2 separate regions of the Homo sapiens genome follow, and region 2 is linked to region 1. The links come from fine-mapping of genetic effects on gene expression. A gene starts in region 1. The other region holds a variant in brackets. All regions are shown on one strand. Distances are between the middles of the regions.

The links.
Region 2: its variant is fine-mapped to the expression of TRIM14 in whole blood (INTERVAL, PIP above 0.99).

The regions. Positions count from the first base shown.
Region 1 is chr9:98,118,066-98,120,975 of GRCh38, forward strand. It overlaps TRIM14 (tripartite motif containing 14), which reads right to left and starts at 1,157. Exons shown (of 6, transcript NM_014788.4): 1 at 917-1,157. The coding sequence starts at 1,123. CORO2A (coronin 2A) reads right to left here. Exons shown (of 12, transcript NM_052820.4): 12 at 2,910. RefSeq lists an enhancer at 631-680 and a silencer at 991-1,090.
Region 2 is chr9:98,090,044-98,092,953 of GRCh38, forward strand. TRIM14 (tripartite motif containing 14) reads right to left here. Exons shown (of 6, transcript NM_014788.4): 5 at 1,866-1,958. Among named protein-coding and RNA genes, the nearest start is that of TRIM14, 28 kb to the right of the region's middle. RefSeq lists an enhancer at 609-1,168. The variant A/AAAATAAAT (reference allele first, on the strand shown) is at 1,741.

The DNA.
Region 1 (2,910 bases):
GTACCGGAGAAAGGCTCACGATGGGGCTGAATTCATCACAGAAGACTTCTTGGAGACAAGTGGTAGGATCAACAGCTGTCAGACATGAGGGCCTACCTCACCCAGGCTTCATGAAACCCAGAGAGAGAGAAGGATTTGAGAGAAGCCACAGAAAAAGTCAGCTGGGAAGCTGGAGCAGGAGCCCAGAGCCCCTGGGGCACTGTTAGGATTATGCATGGGTAAGGGTTCCACGGTGACAATGGCCCTGTTGGGGGCATCTGGCTAATGGAGTCCTGGGTTCAAGGCCTGCCCCTGCCTCCAGAGCCTTCCTCTTGTGGCCTATAAAATGGCTGTAATAATAATGGCTCACCCAGGGCTGCTATGAGCAGGAATGGGAGTGTCTGTGTGGCCGGGGAGGGGAGAGGAGGTAGGTAGTGACAGCTGAGGCTGCTCCCAGGGCAGTCAGGCCGTCCTCAGCTCAAAGTTCACAGGCCCTTTCTGTGGACTGCAGATTAAGTAAACCTGAGATGTCTGTGTGGCTTTCTGAGCTACACAGGGCTGTTTATTAAGAGGGAGAGTTTGTACCTCTGTTAACTAAAAGGCAGACTGTCTTCCAGCCCAATGGCAGTGTGGCGGATCGGCCATGGTGGACACGGTCAAGGACATCTGGGTACCAGCCTGGGCTCCCAACCTCTCACTCCTAAACCCACCTTTTCTGAAGCTCAACTGATGGCTTTGGCTCGCCTTTGCCCTTCCTTGGGTCTCAGGCTCCCGCTCTGAACTTTCGGTCGACCGCTTAGACGCCCTCTGGGGCACCTTTGGTTTCCAGGTTGTAACCCGCCACTGGCCACGGCCAGGCACGCCCCCTCCTCGGCCGTTATGCCTGGGCTGGCTCCCCCAACTCCCGCGCGGCGAACCCCGTCCCCATCGTCCCCACCTGCACGTGCACCGCTGCCTCCAGCGCCAGGCCCACAGGGTGGCCACGGTGCGCGCCCAGCACCGGGCAAAGCGCGCACACGCAGCGGCGGCAGCGGCGACAGAAGAGCTCAGCCACGCGGTCGCCATGCTCCGGGCAGCGCCAGCCGCATCCCTCGACAAGCTCCGACCTCCCAGGGGTCCGGCTCCCGGTCGCCGCGCCCGCCATTCATCTCCACCTCCTCCGGCTCCCCGGGACACAGGGCGGGGCTCCCAAGGGAAACCGAAACCTCGGCCGTGGGCGGGGCGGCTCCAGGCCGGCCGGCCGACCCCTAGGAGGATGACAGCCCGCCGGGAGCAGCGTCGGGCCTCGGAGCATCCTCCGACCAGCAGGGTGCTCCCTCTGCCCGCCCAGGCCGGGAGGTGGTCCCACCAGAAATGGGAAGCTCCTAATGAGCCAGCTAGGAGAGGGTGGGCTTCCTGCTTAATGACGCTGTTCCAGTAACGCCCAGAAAACTGCAGCCCTGATGATGGGACCAAAGTTGGCTGTGACCTTCCGGGGGTGCTCCTCTCACTTTCCCTTGATCCTCTCTTGCCCTTTTCCCCGGAAAGATAATCATTCCCACAACTGTAAGATACCTTCATCAACCTCAAATAAGGACACAGAGATTCTCCAATTGAGTTTATTTCGGACTGAGCAGAAGGATTGCAATTCGGGAATAAATGTGCCATGGCACCCAAGGGGTGGGGACGCGGAGTACTCAGGGAGGCAAAGGAAAGCAGAGGCTTTTAAAGGCAAAACGAGGAGGATTGCATATACTGTTTTTTTTGTTTGTTTGTTTGTTTTTGTTTTTTTTTTTTTTTTTTTTTTTTGGAGACGGAGTCTCGGTCTGTCGCCCAGGCTGGAGTGCAGTGGCGCCATCTCTGCTCACTGCAAGCTCCGCCTCCCGGGTTCACGCCATTCTCCTGCTTCAGCCTCCCGAGTAGCTGGAACTACAGGCGCCCGCCACCACGCCCGGCTAATTTTTTGTATTTTTAGTAGAAAAGGGGTTTCACTGTTTTAGCCAGGATGGTCTCGATCTCCTGACCCCGTGATCTGCCCGCCTCGGCCTCCCAAAGTGCTGGGATTACAGGCGTGATCCACCGCGCCCGGCCAGATCGTTTTAAAATAATAATACTTGGTTACAAGAATTAATACAGGTGGCTTCAGTCCAAAAGTTGAACAGGCAGTTGCTGGGCAGATGTCCTCATATCATGGCTTTTGTGCAAGGTTGTGGTTCTTTGTGCAAGGTTGCAGTTTGGTGGAATCTTTTGCAATAATAGTTCCTGTTACCAGGCAAATCGTTGATGAGGGCCCCCCACTTCATGGCCTCCCAGCACCATTTAGTTTGTTTGAGACAGGATCTCGCTCTGTTGCCCAGGCTGGAGTGCAATAGTGCGATCATAGCTCACTGCAGCCTCTAACTCCTGGGCTCAAGTGATCTTCCCACCTCATCTCTGGAGTAGCTGGGACTACAGGAGCACCATTTAGTTTGGTTTTGATGTAAGTGACTCTGTTTTGGTACTGACAACTTTCACACACACACCACCACCCCAAATTCCAGTTGCCCCCCCAGGCTCAAGTCTAGACTTCCACTTATAAAGCCCTCAGCTCTTTCTTAAGATCCTTGGTCTCCGCCCTGCCTATGCTCCACCCTGTGCTTTTTCAAGACTGGGGGACGTGCAGTTTACCCTGCTTGGAACATTCTTCTTCCCAAATGCCCTTTGCCCTGAGTATTCCAACTTACTCTGCAGGTTTCTACCTTACTATCTTTTCCTCCAGGAAGCCTTCCCTCCTTCTCCTTCCAGAACAGCCTATGCTTTCCCTATCCTGGCCCTCCCCATTCCCGCAGCCATGACTGAAAACTGGAGAGGGCAAAGACTGTCTGTTCTGCCTGTTTTCCAGCTTGGTGTCTGACTCCAAGAGTAGATAGTTAATTGGTATTTGTGGAACAAATCAAGAAAAGGAAAGCTCCT
Region 2 (2,910 bases), 28 kb before region 1:
ATATATGTCTAAGGTGGGAGAAAATGCTGCTCATTATAACCACTTCTATTCAACAATGTTCTAAATGTAGTAGACAGTAACTCAAGGCACGAAAAAGAAGTGAAAGGAAAGAATAAAGATCGGGGAAATGAAAGATTATTATTCATAGGTGACATGCTTATTTACACAAAAACCCAAATAATCTGTAGATAGCTTAGAAGTACTAAGTGAATTTATAACAGCCACTCAGTATGTCAATATACAAAAATGGATAAATCTCATATTGAGTGAAAGAAGCAAAACACAGAAGGGTATAGTGTGAATGATCTACTGAAAGTTCAAAAACAGGTAAAACTAACCTATAGTCCTAGAAGTCTGGAGAGTGGATCCCCTTTGGGGATAGTAAACAAGAAGGCACATGAGGAAGACTTCTGGGGAGTGGAAATTTCCATTTCTTGATCTGAAGGTGGTTACAAAATATGTTTCCTTTTTAAAAAATCATTGAGCTGATTGATCTGCACATTTTTGATTTGTGCACTTTTTTTTTTTTTTTTTTTTTTAAGACGGAGTCTTGCTCTGTTGCCAGGCTGGAGTGCAGTAGTGCGACCTCGGCTCACTGCAACCTTCGCCTCCCGGGTTCAAGCGATTCTCCTGCCTCAGTCTCCTGAGCAGCTAGGACTACTGGTGCATGCCACCATGCCCAGCTAATTTTTGTATTTTTAGTGGAGACAGGGTTTCACCATGTTGTGCAGGCTGGTCTCGAACTGCTGACCTCAAGTGATCCACCTGCCTTGGGTTCCCAAAGTGCTGGGATTACAGGTGTGAGCCACCGTGCTCGGCCTTTAAATCAGTATGTTAGCCTTTGTATGGAAAATGTAAATTTATTCAGTGCCTCTGTTTTGATATTCACTGTCCCCCTCCCAACACCAGGGGCAGTGATCACCATTCTTTGGTTTCCCTCTGTCTCCTGATGGTTACTTTGCACTTGAATAAACTCTGCTAACTGGATACTGAGCCTTCTTTAGATTGAGTCTTTTTTAGGTTGACACCCAGTAATTCCACTTGAGAAATTACTCCTAAAAAATAATCTGAAAATGAGGTATGGTGTGTTCATTCTCTCATTCATTAATTCAATTCAACAAATGTGTACAAGAATGGATGTTTATTACAGCATTGTTTTAGAAATGAAAATGTAAACATCCAACATTATGAGATTGGCTAAATATGACACATCCATTCAATGCAATGCCATGCAACCTCTAAAAACAATGATAAAAATAAAAAATTAGCTGGGCATGGTGGCACACACTGATAGTCCCAGCTATGAGGGAGGCTGAGGTGGGAAAATCATTTGTGCCCAAGAGGTCGAGGCTGCAGTGAGCCATGACTGCACCACTGCACTCCAGAGCAAGACTCGGTCACACACACACACACACATAGTGATAATATTAGCTGGGCACAGTGGCTCACTGTATAAATCCCAAATATATATATGTTCATAATATATCAGTAAATGAAAACAGATGACAAAACAGTATGTATAGTATGACACCACGTTTGTAACATAAAAAGATATATTAAATATATCATTATATGCATATTAGATGTGCTAAAAAAGCTAAAAGGACAAATAATAATAGCAGTTATTCACAGAAGAGGGATTATGAGTAACTTTTTTCTTTCATTTTCTAATTTTTCTACAATGAACATGTATTGTTTTATTGCCTTTAATAATAAACATTTTTTAAAAAACAAGTTCTT[A/AAAATAAAT]AAATAAATAAATAAATAAATTCTAATGAGAAAAAAAGAGGGACCTCCATTTCCATGATCCTCCTCCACCCAACATCCCACCATCTCCACCGTCTCCACCCTATCCCCACTCCCGGGGGTCTTACATTTCAGCAATAGCGATCGCTCTGGTGAGGGGCTGGTTTTCAACAAGGTACCTGGCTTGGTGCTGGAAGGGTCTGAGAGCTGGCAGTTTATGCCTGTAAGGAATTGTTGAGAAATGAGCGCCCGGAGCTTATGCAAGCAGACAAATAAGACGTGCTAAAAATACCACACAACTGGAGATTCGCATAATCTCGCCCAAGAGCCAGGCAGATTTAAGGGATTTATGTGAATTCACAGGGACAGGAAAACCCCAGGATGACAAGGCTGGTGTGGGAGAGTCCTAAATAGGAGGAGGAGCTGAGGCGCGAACAACTACTGGATCCAACACTCAAGGATGGGCGGCGACTCAGGGAAGATGTGCAGATTCCAGGGTAAAGATGGAAAACAAGAAAGTAGAGCTGAGTCCTCAGGAAGGTCTGAGTGCTCAGAAAGAAAGAAGGAGGGGAGTCTATCCCAACAAGCGGGCACAGCAGGGGCACCCAGGGCCCTTGGCACTTGCTGTGCCCTCTGCCTGGACAGCCCCCCCACACCCTTCCCCCCTTGCCCAGGTTGCCTCCTTCCCAGCTATTGGGGCCGCAGCTCACTCAGCACCTCCGCAGAAGTGCCTTCCGCCCCCATCACTCCCAGCACTCATCACAGGGGCCTGTAGAGATCTGTGGGAAGCCCACCTGCAGGCTGTTTAAATCAAGTTTTGCCTAAAGCTCCTCCTTACATCTTTTAAGTTCGGCCTACATATTTTTCTGTACGTCATGAACAATAACAAGTGGAGGTGTAAACAGACCGTAGCCTGCACTTGTGCCAATCACCAAGTTTTGGCCAATCAGATGTAGCCAACTGTTCAAATTGTGTTCAAATTAGGCGAACGCCGAGCTGTAACCAATCCAGCTGCTTCTGTACCTCACTTCTGTTTTCTGTACGTCGCTTTCCTTTTTCTGTCCCTAAATCTTCTTCCACCACGTGGCTGTGCTGGAGTCTCTGAGTGCACTGTGGCTCAGAGGGCTGCCGGATTCATGAATCGTTCATTGCTCATTTAAACTCCTTTAAATT